2 linked regions of the Homo sapiens genome follow. The protein of the gene in region 1 interacts with the protein of each later gene in a pairwise test. Each region holds a gene or a part of one and is shown in the gene's direction. Other genes may lie near its edges.

Region 1 (9,985 bases):
CCGGCCAAGGGCCCTGGCGGCCGCCGCGCCCCTGCTGCTCTCAAGTTTCCCGTTGGCGGCGCGGCCCGGGCGCTTCAGGTAGCCTCTCGGCTCTCTCTGCTCCGCTCCGCGCCCAGGTAGGGCACCGACGGGGGCTGCACGCGGCTGGCCGGCTTCCTCCCTGCTGAGGCGGCCCTCCCTCCTCCCGCGGGGCCCTCCTGGCCGGGGATCCGCAGCGCTGCGCCCTCTGAACGCCCGGCCCCCGCGCCTGCTGCGGGGCGCGGCCTGGCCGGGCCCTGGCCCCGGCTGGCCTCAGTGCCCAGCAGCCCCGCTCCGCTCTGCCCAGCGCGTCCCCTTTGCTCCAGCCCTGCGGCCGTCCCTTTCGGCCGGCGGCATGGCCCTGTCGTCCGAACCCGGTGAGTGCGCGCGAGGCTGCGCTGCTGACCTTGGGCCAGCCCCGCGGACCCTGCGGCCCAGGCGGGAATCAGCAGCGCCCTGGGGTCTGAACCGCGGCTTCCGCCTTCCCTGCTCGCAGAGGCGGTGGCGCTGACTCCGGTCCGATCCCTTGCCCTGTCCCCTGTTCCTGTCCCTGTCCCTACCCCTGCCTCTGCGGTGGCCCGAGCCCCAGCGGCCTCAGGTGAGCGGGCAGCATCCCGATTCCCTGGCGGCCTAGAATGGAATCGCAAGGTTTAGAGAAATTAAGGGACCTGGGACTTGCCACCCTGGGCAAAGTTCCTAGGTGCTTGAGGACTGGCTGGATGTGGACAGCTGAGGTGGACTTCTACCTGGAGGCGAGGGATGCACTGGATGATAGGGTGATGAGGTCGTTTGAGGCCTTCATCCTTACCTCTTTGGCTCTCTCCCGGCAAGGGAGGTGTACAGCCTTGGGCTCTGGCAGTCTGCTTTCTGCCCTTGATCTTCTGGTAGCTGCTTTGCCAGCAGAGCTGCTAATGGCTGTTGTAGGCTGGCAGAGGTCCCTGGGGAGAGTTTTGAGAGGCCTTGGAGTAGGAGAGGCTTGCTAACTAGGGTATCATTTCCCCAAACTGTATGTGGCTGAAAGCTTGATGGCGACACATCAGCAAAGGAGCTGGGTGAAAGCAGGCAGCACAAGGAGGGATTTTAGCATGGTCTTGAGCCCCTGTTGGCTTTCCCTCAGGATGCAGTGACCAACATTTGGCCATCTTCATGGAAAAGCTGCCTGCAGCTGGAACCTGCAGAGGAGAAATTCTTTCCCTGGCTGTGCAGCACTAAGGCCGAGTGTTAGTGGAGCCATTGAGCCAGACAGACAGAGCCTCTGTCACTTCACACCTCTAGGAGTGTTGACAGCAGGTCTGGGGTAGTTGGCCTGGCCTGGCTGCAGCTTCATGGGGCCTGGCTTGCTCTGAGGATGATGGTATGGGGCTGCCCTCTCTAGGAATAATGACACCTGCATAGGTGGTGGCTGGGAGACTCTTTGACCTCTCAGTCCCATCCTTAGCTCAGCCTCTGTCTTCTAAGGTTCTCCTAGCTCTCAGCTAGGTCAAGAAGCTCTTTGAGAGATGAGGTTTTTTGTAGTTGTTTTTTTTTGCCTCTACACTGACTGGATCACTCTTCAAATGGCCTCAAAATCTGTCTCAGGTCTTGAAAATGTCATGGGCAGATAACATGTAGCCTTCGGGTTAACAGGGAGATACCCTTTCTCCCCTAAAGCTGCCCATTGGCCTCCATGATTCTTCCACCAAGTATAATAATCTCTTAGTTCTTCTGTATGCTGGTTGCATATCTAGGACAACAGACAATTGCTTTGGGCTTTTGATTTGTAAGGAACTGACTGGGGCATGGGAGGATGAGCTCATGGCTGGAGTCCTGGCTGTGTACAGTCACCGAGAAGTACCATTCATAGGGGAGAAGGATGTTCCTCCTCCTGATCTGGCTTCACATTTAAATATGTTTTCCTTCTTCCTGCACCCAGGTAATAGAAACTTGGGAGAGTGCCAGGCACATGGTGGTGCTCAATAAATAAGGTTGAATAAAAGGATTCAGTGTCTAGATAAAACTTCATGTTCATTTTCCTAGTTCTTCTCTCTCGTATCTGATATCATAATGATGATGACAATGATGTTGGCAGATAATGCTTATAAAACACATACTCTATGCCAGGTACCAGTCTAAACACTTCACTTATGCTCATTGTCATGGCAACCTATGAGATTGGCTTTTTATTATCCACACTTCATAGGGAATAAAACCGAGCCACAGAAAAGTTATTTAACTTGCCCAAGGTCATACAACTAAGTGGTGGAACAGGATTCAAATGCAGGGAGTCTAGCTGGAGTTTTTTTTGTTGTTGTTTGTTTGTTTGAAATGGAGTCTCACTCTGTCACCCAGGCTGGAGTGCAGTGGCACAATCTCAGCTCACTGCAACCTCCACCTCCCGGGTTCAAGCGATTCTCCTGCCTCAGCTTCCCAAGTAGCTGGGATTACAGGCGCCCGCTACCATGCCAGGCTAATTTTTGTGTTTTTAGTAGAGATGGGGTTTCCCCATGTTGGCCAGGCTGGTCTCAAAACTCCTGACCTCAAGTGGTCTGGCCGCCTCGGCCTCCCAAAGCGCTGGGATTACAGGCGTGAGCCACCACACTCAGCCTGAGTCTACGTTTTTAGCCATACACTCTACTCATTCCTGAGATTGCCATAGGTGGATTGATCTATTATAAATAGCTAGTTCACTTGTTCATTGTTTTATGCATTCATTCATTCAACAAATACTTGCTGAATGTCGACCATATTTCAGGTATGGGGATACAACTGTGAATGAGACAGGCGAGATTTGTCATGGAGCTGGTATTTAGCAAGTGAATCCCCTTTGTCCAACTCCTTGTGTGAGTCACACACACCTCACAAATGAGAAGAAAAATGAACCCCTCTATGCAAGCTCATGCCTGGCTTTTGGGGAGGAGAGTGATATCTTTCTTTTTCTTTTTCTTTTTTTTTTTCTTGAGATAAAGTCTTGCTCTGTCGCCAGGCTGGAGTGCAGTGCAGTGGTGCAATGTCAGCTCACTGCAACTTCTGCCTCCTGGGTTCAAGTGATTCCCCTGCCTCAGCCTCTCAAGTAGGTGGGACTACAGGTGCGCACCACCATGCCCAGCTAATTTTTTGTGTTTTAGTAGAGATGGGGTTTCACCACGTTGGCTAGGATGGTCTCAATCTCCTGACCTTGTGATCCACCTGCCTCGGGCTCCCAAAGTGCTGGGATTACAGGCATGAGCCACCATGCCCGGCCGATATCTTTCTTGATGAGACATAATTTGATTCCGTCCTCTCCTGTCTTTTAGAGTTTGTAAGGGGTGCTTAAGTGATAAAAGGGGATGCAGTCTAGTCTCGGGCAGGAGAAGCGGGCCCTGTATCTGGTTATCATAAATTGTCTTGATGTTTGTTCGAAAGGGAAATAAGGCTTTGAGCTTGGGATCAGTGCTCTTCAGTCCACAGAGACATCTTGGCTGCAAGAAGCAGCAACAAGTTAGGCTCAAGGTGGAATTGTGAGGTCCTGAGAAGAGCTTGCTCTTCTGGGACAGAACTGTATTTTTCTTCTAAACTGCCCATGTTCTGGGGAGTCTTCCCGCCTTTTGGCTTCAGCAGGACCCTTGGTCATTGTTACAACCTGTGTCATCTTAGTGGAGCTGCTGCTGGTTTCTGTCTGAACCCGATGCAATGGGTCTCATACCTGTAAACTGGGCTCCAGGAAGGCAGCTTTCTCTAAGTTGGAAAATGAAGACTCAAGGTGGAGGGTGTTTCCCAAAGCCGATACCACAAGATATTAATAGGTGTTTTTTTCCTATGACAGCAGTTCTAGGATGGTCAAATAAGTGCGTCGGGTTAAACAAAGTTAAGCAGCTTTCTTTACTGCAGGACTTCTCAGGTGTTGAATTTGCTAGTAGAAACTGTGCATGAATACCCATAAGGGACTACAGGATGCAGTGTTTTCCAAGCCTTCTGACCTTTCATGTTCTGCAGACTGCACTTTGAAAAATGCTTGTTTAGACTAAGGCTAGCTGGGATCCGGTTAAAGGTGCAGAATAAAATTCCCTGAACGTGTCGGACTTAAATCCTTGGGCTGGAATCCTCCCACTGCAGTCCCCACTCTACCTCCCCTTTCCCCAAAACACTAGCAGAAAAAGTCATCTGCCCCTCCTCCTTCTGGCAGAATAGTACTAAGGGCTTGGATTTTTTTCTCATACTGTAAGTTCATTTAATTGTTTAATGAATAAATATTACCCTCCCTCTAGGTTGCTTGTAGCCTGCTGGTTGCACTGTTTATGAAACAGCTGTGAGGACAGGTGGGCCGTAATCTCTGGGTAGCTAAAGCCCAGCAGCAGCCCGAGGATCATGTGTCAACCCTGTAATACTGCTCTGTGCACACAGGAATTATGATGTGAGCTCAGTAAGACACAACCTCACGATTGGACATGCGGAGGTGACTCAGGCCCAAGTCAGGGTTACAGCTAGCCTCCCGGTAAACAACTGACCCATCCTTCCTGAGCTCTTCTCCCCAGGATTTCAACAGCACCACAGAAATAGCCATTTTGCTCATGGTTATTTCCCAGGACCACAGGATTTGCCTAAGTCACTGGGAGGCTATGTGTCTGTTCTGAGCCTTCCCACTCTCCTAAAGGGCAGATGAAGATCAGAGCTTTGCACCCTGTGATGCCATTTTAATCAACCCTGCTTGGTTTTAGAGGATTGCTCCTGTGGGTCACTTGAGGCAGGCTCCACCTTCCCCAGGAGGAGTGGCAGAGTCCAGCCAGCGCTCGGAGCTGGAGGCCCACGTGGGAGCAGTGAGCGGCTGTAAGCAGGGGAGGGTTTGGGGTGGGCTCCGGTGGGTCAGTTGGGGTGTACTCCTTTTCTGTGTGTGTGGATGGGGGTGGGGGTTCTGGTAAAGCTTATCAGGCTTCGCAGTCACCTGTGATGTGGGCTTCCTTCTGGGAAGAAAGGAAGGAGTGGGATGGGGCTGTCAGCTTTTCATCCTAGCCTGCCCCTGTCCTCTGTCCGCCTCTGTGCTGAGGCAGTTCCTGCTCCCTGAGTCTCTGTCCTTTCCTGGGAAAGGTGGAAGCAGTTCATGGTCTTTCCCTTTCAGAGGAGGAGGGGATGGAGGGGATTGTATTAGCAACTGGGATTGAAGCTCCCCCTGGCAGTTATGGGGTGCCCTTGGGAGGGCTGCTTTAGGGGGGCTTTCTGAGAAGAGGCAGGTCGGGCTGTACCTGAGACCAATCCCCTTGATAAAATGCAGCCAGGCCTGAAGCACGTTCAGAACGGAAGCAGCAAAGGTGATGATATCGCTCGTTGCTACTCAGCTTTCAGGAGGAGGCTGGGCGTTAGAGGGAGGCTGTGGCTTATCTCCTGCAGCTGGGCAGGACGGCTGAGTTTACTGTTGTAAAGAGGAAGCCGCCGCTTTAGTTTCCTCTTGTGAGGGCTGTGAAGAGGGCCAGGACACTGCATTCAGGATACCACAGCCATTTTGTTTTGGATAACTGGGATTACCTGGGGACTTCAGGGCTCTTGGAAATTTTCCACTCATATTTCATATTCACGAGAGAATTTCCAGCCCAGGCTTTTCCTGCTCTGGCTCACTGCTGCTCACAGATATGCAAAACAGAGACCTCCTACTCCAGCCGGCAGACAGGACCCAGCCAGCTGCACGCACGCACTGACTCAGCTGAGCCTCCTGGGTGGCAGGCAGCACCTCACCCGGGTGCATCACTTGAGTGGCATCTTCAGGACCAGTCATGGAGCCAGGCTCAGGTCTGTGTCGGGGCTTCTGCAAGGGGAGTCTGGCAAGAGTAGGAACCAGCTTCCTTCGTATAACGAGGGGATTTCAGTGGCACTGGGCTTCCTTTCTGGAGGGACTGTGGCACCATGAAAAGTTACTGTTTGTTGAAACTGGCAGTGTTTTAGAACTTTCTAACTTTGGGACACTTCTTCAAGTTCATCAGAGCGTGTTGCATGTAACAGTGAGATAAGCTGTATCATTGGCTGACTGATGCTGGTGAATTCACAGCTAAGCCTCCCAAGCCTGCTGGCTTCAGCTGACAAAGGGTTGGAAGCCAGGCGTGAACATGCAGCTGGAGCTGAAGCTCTGCTTGGCATCTGCAGAGTGAGCTTTCCTTGTCAGGCCTGGCCTGGCAGGTGTCTGGAGGGTCTGAGAGGAGAGACACTCTGGAGGGACGGGTTGGCAGGTGGGAGCTGTCTGCCAAGGACATCCAGAAGGCAGCAGATGTGGGGGCAGCTGCTAAGGCCTGCAGCACCCCAAGTGGGTTACTTGGTCCATACTAAGATATGGAATTAATTATTTTGTTGTGGTTGCTGTTGTTTCTTGCTTTTTTTTTTTTTTTTTTGAGAGAAGGTCTTGCTCTGTCACCCAGGCTGGAGTACGGTGGTGCCATCATGGCTCACTGCAGCCTGCACCTCCAGGACTCGAGCAATTCTCCCAACTCAGCCTTCCAAATAGCTGAGACCACAGGTGCATGCCACCACACCTGGCTGTTTTTTTTTCTATTTTTTGTAGAGATGAGGTTCTGACATATTGCACCAGGCTGATCTCGAACTCCTGGCCTCAAGCGATCCTCTTCAGCCTCCCAAATTGCTTGGATTATAGGCATGAGCCACTGCACCCGGTCTTGGAATGAATTATCTACCAACTATTTAAGACACTGGTAGTAGTTCTGCGGAAGATTTTTATGGGTTCTGTAAAACAAAAAGGGTTCTGTATGTTAATGTTACTCTATGATCCTTGATTTTAATGAGCCTTATGAATGTGAGTTGAGGGGCTGTGGAATGCAACATCTCCCAATAACTGACCACAGGACCTGTTTTACCAGCAACAGGTATCAATTTCTTATGGCATCCAGTTTGGGAAAGGTTGATTTAAGCTAAAGAGAAAGGAAGATATGTTATAGAAAGCTGTGTCCTGAAAAGTATTTTTAGTTGATTAGAGCAAGCTAAAAATGCTTTGTGCGCTGGTATGATGGCTCACACCTATAATCCTAGACCCTGGGAGGCCAAGGCAGGCGGATCACTTGAGACCAGGAGTTCAAGACCAGCCTGGCCAACATGGTGAAACCCCATCTCTACTAAAAATACAAAAATTAGCCAGGCATAGTGGTGTGTGCCTGTGGTCCCAGCTACTCGGGAGGCTGAGGTGGGAGAATCACCGGAGCCTGTGAGGTCGAGGCTGCAGTAAGCTGTGATTGTGCCACTGCACTCCAGCCTGGGCAACTGAGACCCTGTCTCTCAATCAATCAATGAATAAATGCATGCTTCATGAGCAAACATGGCAGGATCTGGCATAAGAGCCCTCAGACATCAAGGACTTCCCTCCCACCCAAATACCCATTGCCAAGGGAGCCTGGTTGGGGGTGTCTGGGTCAGGCCTGTGTGTGTCTGAGGGCATGAAGGAGGTAGGAAGGTGCTGCTGGTGGTGGATGGCTTCTGTCCAGGGTAGGAGCTAACACAGAGATAGGTCTGAATGGTGAAACTCCCTTTGGCCTGGCCTCTCAATAGTGTGGGTTAGGCTGATCTTGAACTCTTAGCCTCAAGTGATCCTTCCTCCTCAGCCTCCCAAATTGCCTGGACAACATGGCAAAACCTCATCTCTAAAAAAAAAAAAAAAAAAAAAAATTAGCCAGGTATGGTGATGCTCCCTCCCTCCCTCCCTTCGGCAATTAAGGAGGGAGCCCTAATTGCCAAAACCTGCCAGAAAAAGAAGTTTGTTTTCCTATTTTTCTCTCTTTTCATAGAGTCTTAAGTCTACTCATTTTCTTTCTATTCTCTTTGTATTTGTTAAAAATGGCATTATAATAGCATTCATCATCAAAATAAAATATCCTCTCACACACAGGCAGCCCTGCCACCTGGTCATTTTGACTGCGTGAATCTCTTGCAGGTCTTGCCCATAAAGGGATGCATTTTCCTTTCACTGTAAATAAAGCATGGGTATGGTTCTATGTATTAATTTTTTCATTTACTGTATTTTTATTTTTTTATGTGATTGCACCATCCTCATAATCATAATTCTGATTACTTAACATCTTTTTCAAGTGAGTATGCTCTAATTTAGGCATTTTAAAGCTATTTATGTAAATAATGCAGGTAAATATCCTTGTGCTTTTCATTCTTAGGATTCTTTTTTTGAAAGAAATTTGTAGAAGTAAAGTTGCTTAGTCAAATGGTATGGTGCTTTATGGCATTTGCGGCCTTTTGCCTGGGCTGTTGGGTTGCATATCTTCTTCTGAGATGCGATGTGAGGTTTTGGGATGGTGCCCTTGATTGGTGGCCTTGGAATAAGGGGGGAGGTGAGGATCCAGTTTCGTTTCAGCCTGATGGAGCCTCCTGGGTCTGGTTCTTTGTGCTGTTCCAGACTTTCTCTCCCCTGTCACCTCCTTTGATGGCCTCCAGCTTCCCCCCTCTCTGCTATCAAGACATGGAAATCCCCACAGGCAGCTCTGTTCCTCTTCCTTTTTGCAGAGGCCAGGCCTCGCTGTCTTGATGTCTGCTCCCCAGACAGTTGTGTGTTGACAGGCTGTTCCCCACCAGCTCCCTCCCACTCCTCTCATCAGGGAGTGGCAGGTCCTTGGGTCTCAGAGTTAAGGGAGCCACAGACCTCACTCTGATTGCCTGTTGCTAGCCTGCTTTCTTCCTTCCTGTCTGTGTCATGACTTAGTCCCACATGCCACTCAGACTCAGAGCAGCAAGCCCTCCTCAGGCACCGGAAATCTCTCTGGTACCTAGAATTATGCCACTTAGAGCTGAGAGGGCCTTAGAGACCACTTAGTTCAATCCCTTTATCTCACAGATGAGAACATTGTGAGGCCGGAGAATGACTGTCCCAAGATGGCCTAGTGTGTTCCCCTCCCCTGTAGCTGCACTTCTCCCTGCTGGACAGCAGCAGGGCTCTGTCTCATCTCCATTCTTGTCTGTCTGGTCCACAAAACCACTTCTCTCTTTAAACCAACTTTAAAGAAACTGTGGTCATAGGTAGATGGGAAACTCCTCTTCCAGAGCTGCTCCCAACGAGGGTGGCTTGTCGAAAAGGGTGCAGTATTAATCCATTCCACAAGTGTTATGCTGGGGACTGTGAGGAGCCCCTGCCCGGACACATACGTGGACAAAGAGAAGCAGCACAGCATGGTGGGTGAGGGGACAGAGGCAGGAACCAGGTGCCTGGGTTCAGATCCCTGAGCTGAGGATCAGAGAGGAAAGGGATGAGAGAGAAAGGCTGAGAACAGCACAAATCTCTGCTGACTTATTAAAAGTGTGACCCTGGGCATGTTAGCTCTCTATGCCTTCATTTTCTCATCTGTCAAGTGGGAATAATAAGATTAACTGAGTTAATAAGTATGAAGTTCTTTGCAGAGTATATATATGTATGTATACATATATAAAATATATATTATATATAATATATATTATATATAATATATATTTTATATATATATATATATTTTATTTTTAAAATTGAGACGAGGTCTCACCCTGTCTCCCAGGCTGGAGTGCAGTAGTACGATCATAACTCACTGCAGCCTCAACCTCCCTGGCTCAAGAGATCCTCCTGCCTCAGCCTCCCTAGCAGCTGGGATTACAGGCATGCATCACCATACCTGGCTAATTCTTTAAATCTTTTTTAGGGATGAGGTTTTGCCATGTTGTCCAGGCTGGTCTCAAACTTCTGGGCTCAAGCAGTCCTCTTGCCTTGACCTCCCAAAGTGCTGGTATTACAGGCGTGAGCCACCACACCCGGCCCCAGAGTATACTTTTTTTTTTTTTTTGAGGCAGAGTCCCACTCTGTTACCCAGGTTGGAGTGAAGTGGCTCAATCTTGGCTCATTGCAACCTTCACCTCCTAGGTTTAAGCAATTCTCTTGCCTCAGCCTCCTGAGCAGCTGGGATTACAGGTGCCTGCCACCACGCCTGGCTAATTTTTTTGTATTTTTAGTAGAGACGTGGTTTTGCCATGTTGGCCAGGATGGTCTCAAACT
Region 2 (12,460 bases), on another chromosome or scaffold:
AATGACGTTTCCATCAGCAACACAACATACACAATTGTGGTCCCATAAGATTATAACAGAGCTAAAAAATTCCTATTGCCCAGTGACTTCTTGAGGTTCCTGACCCTGTGTGGGCTCAGGCTAACGTGTGTGGTTGTGTCTTCATTTGTAATTTTAAAAAAAGGGTTTTAAAAGAAAAGAAATGAAAATAAAAAATTTTTAAATAGAGAAAAAGCTTATAAAATAAGAAAATAAAGAAAAATATTTTTGTACAGCTAGGCAGTGTGAATTTTAAGCTAAGCGTTATCACAAAAGAGTCCAAAAGTTTGAAAAAAAACCAAATAGTTTGTAAAATAAAGTTAGAGTAAGCTAAGGTTAATTTCTTATTGAAAAAAAAATTTATTAATTTAGTATAGCCCTAAGCATAAAGTATGTATAAAGCCTACCTCATGTTTAGTAATATCCCAGGCCTTCACACTCACTCACCATCACTCACTGACTCACCCAGAGCAACTTCCAGTCCTGTAACTTCCATTCATGGTAAGTGCCCTAATAGTTGTACCATTTTTTATTTTTTACACCTTAGTTTTATTGTACCTTCTCTAAATTTAGTATGTTTGGACACACAAATACTTAAAATACTTACCATTGTGTTACAATTGCCTACAGTATTCAGTACAATAACACACTGTACAGGTTTATAGCCTAGGAGCAAAAGGCCATACCATACAGCCTAGGTGTGTAGCAGGGCTACCCCATCTAGGTTTGCGTGAGTATACTCCACGATGTTCACACGATGACAAAACTGCCTAACAACACATTTCTCAGAGCGTATCCCTGTTGTTAAGCGACACATGACTGAATAAGCAAATGTGCAGTGATTGTGCATTTTTTTTCCTGAGAGAGTCTAAACCCCTCATTCCACACTCAGAAGAGTCTATGATCCCAAAACATTAAGGATCACTTAATCAAAATCATCTACTATTCAATCTGAGAATTTCCTGTGTAGCATCCTCTAGAGTTGGTGATTCCATCTCTCTTTGCCCCTAGTGATAGGTATTCATCACTGTGTGAGGCACTCACAGTTAGAAAATCACTTCTTAATATCACATGCGCAGGGCAATGGTCCCCTCACTCCCTTCACACGTAAGGTTATGGAACAACAGGCATGAGAACGCTGAATGGCTTAAAAGTACTTTACAAACAAAAGGTGCTCTAATTTATTCTTGTTATGTCATTATTGCCATAGTATTACATCTCAAGTTAATTTTTATCTCAACCATTCAAACTTAAGTCTGACTTAGTAACTAGCTCATCATTATTTTTTATAACAAAGTAATGACTAGCAACATCTGGCATCAGACTTTGAACAAACCTCAGAAGGAACTGTCAAGGAGGCTCCCCACGGGTTCACGCTCTTCTCTCCTCCTGCACACAGGGAACAGGGCCATTCTCCTTCCTTTACTGGGACTACCTGGGCTTCATCCAGGGAATCCCCAGGTGGCAACAGGAGGGTGGTGAAAACCGCTGCCCGTCACCTGTAAAGTTTCCTGTGAATGTGTCTACAGCGGCCAGCACCACAAGGCATACAAAGAAAGGGAAGGGAGAGCTGATGTGAGAGCGGCAGCGTGGGCACTCCTGTGAGGTTGCCACAGCTGTAGACAAGTTAAATCAGTGCAGTTCAATCAAAAGTCATGACCCATGAGCGTCACAACCAGCACGAGTCTACAAAGGAATACATTAAAACTAAGACCAGAGCACAGCTCACATTAGTGAGGGATGGGATCATTTCATGGAGTTTTTGTTTCAAAATATTTCATTAACATTTCACTTATATACATGTGTGTATACTGGGTTGTGATTTAAATTACAATTCTTACTATAAAATACAGCAAAAGAAAGAAGAAACAAAGAGAGGGCCACTGGTTTACCTAACATCCACAGGCAGGCTACTTCCCAGCATCTTGAGCCCCAAAGAAGTAAATTTCCTTCCACAACCGATGTTACCACAGCCTGACACTTAGCCAATGATGAAAACGAAAAACAAAACAAAAGCTTGGCAGTCAGTATCCAAATATGCAGATACTACAGAATCTGTTTGATGTAGAAGTTGATCCTGCTACCCAGACAGCAAACAACTCATTTATTAATAAAGTCCAGTTCCTCCTTAATGAAGTGGGTTTAATAGTTGATATCTCAATAATTACTTAGTGCATTTTTTATGAAGGTGATGGGAAACAAGTGCTGTTTCTTGAGTCGGAAAGAGTCTCTCAAGCTCCCACAAAGAAATTTCCCGAGCTTGTGAGGAATTCAGTCACAGGAAGATCAAGGAATTAAGTGTACTGCAAAAAACCCTTCATGCTTCTGGCTAAGATAAATCTAACAGTGTACTGGATGTCTTCAAGAATACCTCATTTACTCAAAAAATACAATATTCCCATTTTCTTTATTTGCATTTTAATGTGATTTTTGCTTCATCTCCTTTCTTCACTCAAGCCACCTGGGCCGTACCCAGGGAATTCCTAAGGGGCAAAAGGAGGGATGTGAAAACCTCTGCAGCCCCTTCGGAAGTTTCTTGTGAATATATGCACAGATAAACAGATGTGCATTTTAAAAATAAAAATGCTTTTAGATCTAATGCTAGGAGATTCAAACCAACAATTAATTTCTCTGTTAAAATGGGTTAAAATAGATGTAAAATATTAATATGTATATAAGCATTCTGAATTAGACTTATGTGAATTTTTCTCCTTTTCTTTCTTTCTTTTTGAGAATAAGCCCTTTCATTTACGTAGAAATGCTTCAGCGTTTAGATAATTGCTACTTATCTTGTTAGCTACAAACACAACCATAATTAAAGGCTCTGTAAGAATTATGAATTCTGGGGAAATTGGCCACTTGTCTCTGTGGCGTAAACAGTATCTAATTTATAACAAATCATCTGCCTTAGTCCCAGCAGGATAAGGTGATATGTATTGCCCAGCACATGAGAAAGATGGCAATTAGGAATTGTTACCAAGTTACGGGAGCCTCACACGAACATCCATCACCTTTGGGGATATGTACAAGATACAAACTTAATTTGATGGATTCCTTTTGTATTGGGATCAAAGTCTCAAAAGGGAAAGTGACAATTTCAGGGAAAATCTGGTGCAATGAGACCAACACTGATGAGAGAAATGCACACAATTTAATACACCTGCTCACCTGATGTGGCAACTCAGCCTGTGCTTGCTGTGGGTTGCCACAGGATGAGACATGGTCTGTGCATATTCCCAGCAGCCACCCATCTCATCACTATTCTTGCCAGCCCAGATTTACAGTTGTTCAATAGATGGATTTGGTAATATCTGCATGACAACAACAGGCAGAGAAGGTTAGATGGCAATTGATTCTTGATTGGTGTAAGTTTATAGAACACATTCTGGCAGGGCCCAAAGGAAATCACTCACCTACCCCTCTGTGATGGTAAAACGTTGAAAATTCCACGGACTTGGACCTTGTGATCCTTCAGTGGAAGATGGGCAGATTCCTTGCTTTAATTGACAGACACTTTCTAAATAACTAATGCAATCTTATATTACATTATAGTCCATAAGGGAGACATACTTAAACTACTACTTACAACAACTGTTTTTAGAGCCTTTCAAATGGTTTGTACAAAGTAGCTCCCATTTAAGATATTTTCCTAGTATTTAAGGCTATCTAGTAGACATTACAAAACAATACGCTGTAAATACATTCAGATTTTTATCAGTAATACTTAACATGCCGTAATTTGAACTTTCTGCTAAATCATGCTATCCATTCCTAGTTGGCCCCAATGGTGAGAGTTTACTGTTTCTTTAAATAATTTTGTTTCCCTTTGCTGTCTAGAGGTGTTTATCATTCTGCTTACTTGCCTGTGTCTCTGGAATATTCAGAAGGTTCCATGGGAAACAATTTGAATATGCAAAGAAGTTATTTTTAAAGCAAGGAAAATGTTTTCATATGGATTTATTTTGAGCACTTCTGCCTTTGCCTCCACTGGGAACATGTTTCTCTCCAACGCCGAAGCCCCCTCCCTGTGTGGTGTTTGACGCAGAGGCTGACAGGGCAGGGAAGTGGGGTTCAAGATAGGAAGGCCATTGGCAGTGTGACCCCAGCCCACAGTCCTAGATCCCAGGTCGTGACACCACTCTTTTGACAGCCCAGATTGTTACCTAACAAGAATGACTCCCAAGCTCAACCATTCCAATGCCATCTCCTCTGGTTCCAGATAAGATTGAAGATGAGCTGGAGATGACCATGGTTTGCCATCGGCCCGAGGGACTGGAGCAGCTCGAGGCCCAGACCAACTTCACCAAGAGGGAGCTGCAGGTCCTTTATCGAGGCTTCAAAAATGTAAGACCCGTGCACGCTCTGAAGGCCTGGGGGGGGTTCCCACGTGAGGCTACACTCTCCCCAATGCCAAGGGAGCTCATAAGGCGTTTCCCATATGTGAGGCTGTACAAGGAAGGCCAGCTCTATAAAGGGGGCATGAGAGGGAGATCACCTGGCTAGAAAGGAAGGCTCCAGGCGAGGATGGAGCAACCTCAGGAGACAGTAAACGGCCAACTGCCCAGAAATTTCACAGGGTGGCACATCCTCAAGGAATTCACCCTGGCCCAGGGTCAAGCCTTAGCCCTTAACATAATCATACCTTCCAACCTGGTGGTGCCCCCACAATAATGGGATTTGGCCCTGCTGACTTATGCTAACCAGGCTCACCGAGACTGATGTGTAAGCCGAATGTCGGTGTATTAATTTACCTTGGGAAATGGAACTGACAGTGGAAACAGACACTCCTCTCCCTTCGCTGGGACCCGCTCTCCTTGGAAGCCACATGGAAGCCAGGTTACAATCAAAAGTGGAGTCAGAGGACGGGAGTTCCTTGTTTAGTTGTTACTTTAAATACATTAATGTGTTCCTGCAGTCTCAGGCCAGTTTGAGAGCTCTCAGATACAATCCTGGATATTAATTTATTTTTTAAGTTTAACTCTCAGAGTGCAATCTTATTCCCAAATCCTGGAGTGGTGTGGAGTGGGGTGGGCTACAGCGACATGCACCTGGTCACCCTCCCTCCAGGTGCAGTCTGTAGGTAGAGCTGAGCTGGGTCAGTTCCAAACTGACCACAGCCTCAATGTTCTCCAAACTGCTGACCCACAGGGATTCCAGCCCCTCCTGGGAGTTATCTGACAGGTGCTGGGATGCCTCTTCCTTCCACACTAGCCTTGACTGCACATGCCAAGTGCCCAGTTTCCTACCATTAGGGCTTCTTTCCTTCGATGGCAGCATTAGCAGTGGGCAGCCGAGTTGGAGAAGGATCCTGTGGGAAAGTTTTCCAGGCAGGCACTGGGCTCAGAGGGAACAGCATCCAGAAAAGAGAAGAAATCTACACTGCTTGGCATCTACCATGGACTCAATACCACCTAACATAGGTTCATAAGATACCCTTGGGGAAGTTATTGTTACCCCCATTTTACAGGTAAGGATATTGAGGATCAGAGACTGGCTTGGCCAAAGTCACAAAGCTTAGTATTGGCTGAGCCAGGATTTAAACCCAGGTTTTTCTGATCTTAAAGCCCCAAATCTCTCCACCTCACAGTGCCCATTCTCTGACAATGTCTCATCATTTTGCAAAGCAGCTCCAGTCCTGAGATGGCACTACTTGGGAGAAGTGGAAATGCACAGGTCCCTGTCCCTGGGGATCATGAGGAACCCCAGACACCAAGGCTGGGCCCAGTCTTCTCCTAGTGCTGGCCCTCAAATGCCTCCCGCTGACTCTCTCCCCTTCCCACAGGAGTGCCCCAGTGGTGTGGTCAACGAAGACACATTCAAGCAGATCTATGCTCAGTTTTTCCCTCATGGAGGTGAGTCTGACCTTGAAATCTATCTTGCCCAGCTCCCTCTCTGGTAAGCAGCCTTCCCTTCCTCCAAGTCCTCTCTTCCTTGCCATTTGCTTCCTTCTCGAGGAAGAGACAAACTCAGGGCAGGACACCTCCCTCATCGTGAGAGGTGGGAGTCTCCAAAGCTTTAGCAGGAAAGAACTCTGAAAATGAACCCACCCTGGAAGGGGAAGAAGGGCTGATAATGCAACATCACAACGTCTCAGAACAGCTCTAGAAAGCAGGTATTATAATCCCAGATGGAGTAACTGAGTTTCGGGGAAGATAAGCAGTGTACTCAAGATTGCACAGCTGGTGAGTAGCAAACCAGGATTAGATTCCATAAGGGTCTGAAACAGGTTTTGCCATGCTGGCACCACCATTGTGCAGGGCACTTTTGAATCTTTTCCTTAAAATAGCTGAGACAAGCTGGAATTTTGTAAAAGAACTTCAGTAAATACCGAAGACTATAAAAATAAACTAATTGAAAAAGAGGCAGGAAACATAAAGTTGTGCTTATTAAGCCAGTTTACAAGTGTGCCAGGCCCACAACAGCTGCTCTGTTGCCCTGCCCGACTCCTGTGGGAACCAGCTGTGTCCCCATGGGCCTGGGACCACATCGGTGACTCCTCCTGTGGCCTCCATGTGTCACATGCCACTTTGCATCCTGTCACCAAGAGCTGTCTCCTGCAAGACATCTTCCCTGGATCCTGACAAAATGCAAATCCAAGTATTCCAAACACTTCTTGGGCCCTGTTTCTCATGGGCCTTTTTGGCAGCAGACAGATGCCTTCCTTGGTGTGTGGGGCCCCTACCCAGATCAGGTGGGGGAGGCAGTTTTGTCCCATGCAGGCCCCAGAATTGCAGTTTGCTGAGTTCCACTGAGCCACTGTTTATTGAGTTCTCACTGTATGCCAGGCACAGCTGTAGTTTAAAATACTTTTTAAAAAATTTCAAGAGATAGGTCTTGCTACATCCCATTGTAGAGAGGTAGGAAAGGGAAGCTCAGAGAGGTCGTGCTTGATGCCCACAGTCACATAGCTTATGTAGTACAGCGGCATCCAAGTTCAGGTCTCTCTACTCTGGAGTGAGTGCTCATCCCAGGCATTCATGGCCGTTCAGAAGAACATTGTCATGCAGTCACTGTGCCATTCATACACCAACGACTCCATGCATAGACAGGCAGGAGAATGGTTTTCTCATGATGGCTAGAGGGAGGGGCAAGGGCTCATCTCACTTTTTGCTAGATCTAACTTCACACCCAAACCCAAAGAGTTGAGTCAATGGGCCCCACTCCATAATTTTCTCCTTTCCATCACCCTAGCATCACTCTCCTCTCTTTCTTGTCGAAGCCCTGCCTTGTTTGGAAGGTTCTCCCTGTGTGGAATTCCTGCCCCCATCACCTGCCCTCCTTTTCTGCCTTGTAGATGCCAGCACGTATGCCCATTACCTCTTCAATGCCTTCGACACCACTCAGACAGGCTCCGTGAAGTTCGAGGTACGCTCATCTGGGGTCCACTCTAGGGGTCCTCTGGTTCTGCATCACCTCCCCCTCTAAATCTCAAGGCATTGGGGGAAGGTCTGGACCATCAAAAGCTCTCAGTCAGACCAAAGACATGTTTATCCATTTGTAAGCATTTCCTAAAGATGGGGAAAAGCAGCAGCAACTTTCCCTGGCCTGCAGGAACTCAGGGACTCAGGGGACTAATAACAACAGTGTATGAGCTTCCGGGCACACTGCTTCCCAGTGGCAGCCCCTGTACTTAGGGCTTTGTATGTATTAATTCATTTACTCCAATTCCCACAATAACCCTATAGGGTAGGGTTTTATTATTGATTACCTTTTTACAGAAGAGGAGAGTAAGGCAAAGAGAGATAGAGTAGTTTTCCCAAGGTCAAAGAGCACATAAATGATAAAGGATGGATTTGAATGTAGGCAGAATGACCCTCAATACAGACTGTTCCTACAGTCCACGTCCTCAGCCACTAGACCATACGGCCACTGGGATGATAGACAGACCACTGCAGCCATGGATAAGGCAAAAACAGGGCTGGCTGTGTTGATCTGTGTCTCTCAGAGCTCCATTCTTCCTCAAGGGGGCACCTTGCAAAAAAAAACAAAAAAATGGGGCAGGGTAGGGAACTGAAGGCAGGAGCTCTTCACAGAGCATAGCCACATCCTCCAGGCAGACAAGAGGACGCAGGAGGCACCATTCTGTGAGAGTATCACAGTCTGACCCAAAGACACAGCTTCACACTGTCTGATGGCTTGATGGTTAATGTCACTCTGCCTTTTCCCCTTCTCAGGACTTTGTAACCGCTCTGTCGATTTTATTGAGAGGAACTGTCCACGAGAAACTAAGGTGGACATTTAATTTGTATGACATCAACAAGGACGGATACATAAACAAAGAGGTAAGTGAGCTGGGGCCAGGGGTGTGAGAGGGCTCCAGTGAAGGTAACTAACCCAACAGAAAACAGCCCCAGGCATGAGGATAGCACTGTCTGAATGAGGCAGGCTCTGCTTTGGGGCTAACAGAGCTGGTCCCTGGCAAAATAAAGAAGGCCTCCCTCATTGCCCTACCCTGCCCTGTTCCCAAGCGCCCAGAAAGGATTAAACAGATTCATTCTCACTGGGTCACCTAGATTCAGTAGATATTACACAGTGGATAAAAATGACTTGTTTCAGTGTGAAGAGTTACTCTTCCCTAGGGAACCTGCATTTGGGAAGGTTAGGAGCCACAAGTCAAAGCTAAAAGTTGAAATGGTGGAATTGTAGGCAGCACCTAGAATAGAAAAGAAAGATTTTTAAGGAAGAGGAACCTACAATTGGGTCATATTGGCCTTAAACTATTTTGCCTATTAATACAACCGCCAAGGGGGTAATGGAAGGTACAGCTGTCTTTACAGAAATTATCACAAATAATTTCTGAATCTTCACTGCTTTGCACTTTTAGAACCTCAGAGGACATGTCTCTAGCCAGTGAAATACCCTCAGGTCTATCTCAAAACTCACTTTGGTATCCACTGTATCCTGGTATCTCAGTGGAAGCTGGAAATTGGCATCCTGTAACACTCCACTTGCTGAGCTCCTGTGTGCCAGGCACGGTGCCTGGAGGTATAGATATCAGCACCAATCTTCACCTCAACCCGGCAAGCTTCTCTCTGTAAGCTCAGAGAGTTTATCCAACTTTCATTCCTCATTCATTTAGTCATGTTTTTAATTAACACAGATTTGAAGGCTTATTAGGTGTTCTAGGTGCTGGAGGTAAAGAGGTGAACAATCAGACTAGGCCCCACACTGGAGCAGCATAGAGAGATGGACAATAAACAGGCCAAAAAGGAATCAGCAGGTAGAAGATATTTTGGCAGGGAAGGTTAGCAAAGGCCTCTCCAAGGAGGTGTCGTCATACTGGAACCAGTTATACAAAAAGCCAGGAAAAGTGTTCCAGGCAGAAGGAACAGCCACTAGAGAGGCTTTGAGGCAAGATAGAGCTTCATGTGTTTCAAAAACAGAAAGGCTTCAGATGGCTGCAGATGAAGGTATGAAGCTGAAGACTAGTGCAGGATGAGCCTGACAGGTCAGCAGAGTCAGATGGTGGAGGGCTAGGGTAAGGGGCCCATCCATATTCCCCTGGGAAGCTCTTAGATGAACATGTTTTTTGAAAGACACAAAAGGCAAAAACAGACTTAAAAAGAATCAGAAAATCTGACTAGCTCTGTATTATTTAGAGAAATTATATTCACAGTTAAAAACCATTCCCAAATAAAATTATAGGCCCAGATGGTGGACTGGTGAATTCTAATATCAATCCTACAAAAAAATTTTAGAAAATAGAGGAGGATGGAACATTTCCCAGCTTGTTTTATAAGTCCAATAGTACCCTGATACCCAAACCAAAGAAAAAAAGGTCTTATGAAAGGAAACAACTACAAAACAGTCTCCCTCGTGAGCACAGATAAAAAAGCTTTCACTAAATATTAGCAAATTGAATTCAGCAATATATAAAAAGGATGATACAATACAACTATGTGAGTTTTATTCTAGGAAGGCAAGGTTGGTTTAACATTCAAAAACCAATCAATATAATTCACTATATTTAAAGAAACCAAAGGGATATAGACTGGAAAGGAAGAATTAACACTGTCTTTATTTGTACATGGTATAATTGTATTAATAGAAAACCCTAAGAGTCTACAAATAAACTGCTAAAAATAATAAGTGAATTTAACAAAGTGAAGACATGAGTTCTATTTACAAAAATCATTTATAATTCTACATCCAACAAGCAACCAGAAAATTAAATTAAGAAAAATAGCATCAAAAAGCACAAAATACTTTGAGAAAAATTCAACAAAACAGGTGCAAGACTCATACACTGAAAACTATAAAATATTGCTGAAATAAAGTAAAGAACTAAATAAACACAGAGATAAATCATGCTCATGGGTTGGAAGGCCCAATATAGTTAAGATGTGGATTCTCCAAATTTGATTTATAGATTTAGTGTGATCTCAATCAAAATCCCAGCAGGTATTTTGTAGCAGTTGATATGGGAATGCAAAAAACCTAAAATAACCAAAACATCTGAAAAAGAACAAAGTTGAAGGACTAAACCTACCTTACTTCAAGACTTAATGAAAATGTGCAGTAGTCAAGATGGTAGGGAATTGGCATAAGGATAGACATATAGATCAATGGATCAAAATAGAGAGTCAAAAAAACTAAAAGTAGAGCTACCATATGATCCAACAATCCCACTGCTGGCTATATACCCCATGTAAAGGAAACCAGTATATCAAAGAGATATCTGCACTCCCATGTTTTTTGCAGATCTGTTCATAATAGCCAAGATTTGGAAGCAACCTAAGTGTCCATCAACAGATGAATGGATAAAGAAAATCTGGTACTTATACACAATGGAGTACTTCTGCCATAAAATAGAATGAGATTTAATCATCTACAACGTGGATGGAATTGGAGGTCATTACATTAAGTGAAATGAACCAGGCACAGAAAGACAAACATCCCATGTTCTCTCTTATTTGTTGGATCTAAAAATCAAAACAATATGAAGATAGAGGGCAGAAGGACGGTTACCAGAGGCTGGGAAGGATAGTAGGGGGGCTGTGGGGGAAGTTAGGATAGTCAATGGGTACAAAAAAAATAGAATGAATGAATAAGGCCTGGTATTTGGTAGCACAACAAGGTGACTGTAGTCAATAATTTAATTGAACATTTTAACTAAAAGAGTGTAATTGGTTTGTTTGTAACACAAAGGATAAATGCTTGAAGGGATGGATACCCATTTTTCATGATGTGGTTATTACACATTGTATGCCTGTATCAAAACTTGTCATGTACCCCATAAATATATACACCTACTATGTGCCCACAAAAATTAAAAATAAAAAATAAATATTTTTTAAAAATAGAGATAGACCCACCCATATGTCAATGCAACAGATGCCAAAAAGATCAAAGGGGAAAGAACCGTGTTTTCACAGCTGTATATCCATTTGGAAACAAAAATGGACATTAACCTTAACCTCATGCCAAACATAAACATCAACTTGGAATGGATTATAGACTTAAATATTAAAACAAAAGCTGTTTTCTTAAGGAATACATAGGAGAAACATTCTTACAACTTTGGAGTAGGAAAGGATAAGGAATCATTTCTTAAAGTAGATAAATTTGACTTTATCAAAGTTAAAAATTTTGTGCTTTAGAAGACACCTTTAAGAAAATGGAAATGCAAGCCATGGACTTGGAAAAAATGTTTGCAAATTATATACCAGATATATAAAGATACCAGGATACCAAACCAATATAAAGACTGGCATCCAAAATATATAAGGGACATTTATAATTTAATACAAAGATAAACAACTTCATATAAAATAGGCAAAAGATTTGATGAGATATTTAAGAAAAGAAGATATATGAATGGCCAGTAAACCCATGAAAGGTTGCTCTATATCACTGGTCTTCAAAGAAATGCAAATTATAACTATAATGAAATACAATTGCACAGAATGGCCACAATTAAAAAGACTGATAATACCAAGCATTGGCAAAGATGTGGAGCAATAGAAACTCTCATAGATAGCTGGCAGAAATGTAAATGGTACAAACACGTTGGGAAACATTTTGGCATCTTTGATAAAGCTCAGCACACACTTAACATACAACCCAGAAATCCCATTCCAGTCAGGCATGGTGGCTTACGCCTATAATCCCAGTACTTTGGGAGGCTGAGGCAGGCGGATCACTTGAGCTCAGGTGTTCAAGACCAGACTGGGCAACATGGCGAGACACTGTCTCTACTAAAAATACAAAAAAAAAAAAAAAAAAAGCCAGACATGGTGGTAAGCACCTGTGGTCCCAGCTACTAGGGAGGCTGAGGTGGGAGAATTGCTTAACCCTGGGGAGTGGAGGTTGCAGTGAGCTGAGATTGCACCACTGCACTCCAGCCTGGGTGACAGAGCAAGACCCTGTCTCAAAAAAAGAAAAAAAGAAGAAGAAAAGAAGTCCCACTCCTGGATATTTACCCCCAAAAGAAAAATATGTA

What was found.
Region 2: the proteins of AMPD3 (region 1) and KCNIP1 interact in binary tests that used the Homo sapiens proteins (3 or more experiments, as listed by UniProt).

Annotation. Positions count from the first base shown.
Region 1 is NC_000011.10:10,450,649-10,460,633, forward strand, and holds the start of AMPD3 (AMP deaminase 3), read left to right. Parts: upstream 1-4,615; 5' UTR 4,616-4,800; intron 4,801-5,407; exon of another isoform or gene 5,408-5,738; coding exon of another isoform or gene 5,739-5,754; intron 5,755-9,985. UniProt on the Homo sapiens protein: AMP deaminase plays a critical role in energy metabolism.
Region 2 is NC_000005.10:170,714,521-170,726,980, forward strand, and holds part of KCNIP1 (A-type potassium channel modulatory protein KCNIP1), read left to right. Parts: intron 1-4,237; coding exon 4,238-4,362; intron 4,363-5,800; coding exon 5,801-5,870; intron 5,871-7,237; coding exon of another isoform or gene 7,238-7,312; coding exon 7,313-7,383; intron 7,384-8,192; coding exon 8,193-8,300; intron 8,301-12,460. UniProt on the Homo sapiens protein: Regulatory subunit of Kv4/D (Shal)-type voltage-gated rapidly inactivating A-type potassium channels. Regulates channel density, inactivation kinetics and rate of recovery from inactivation in a calcium-dependent and isoform-specific manner.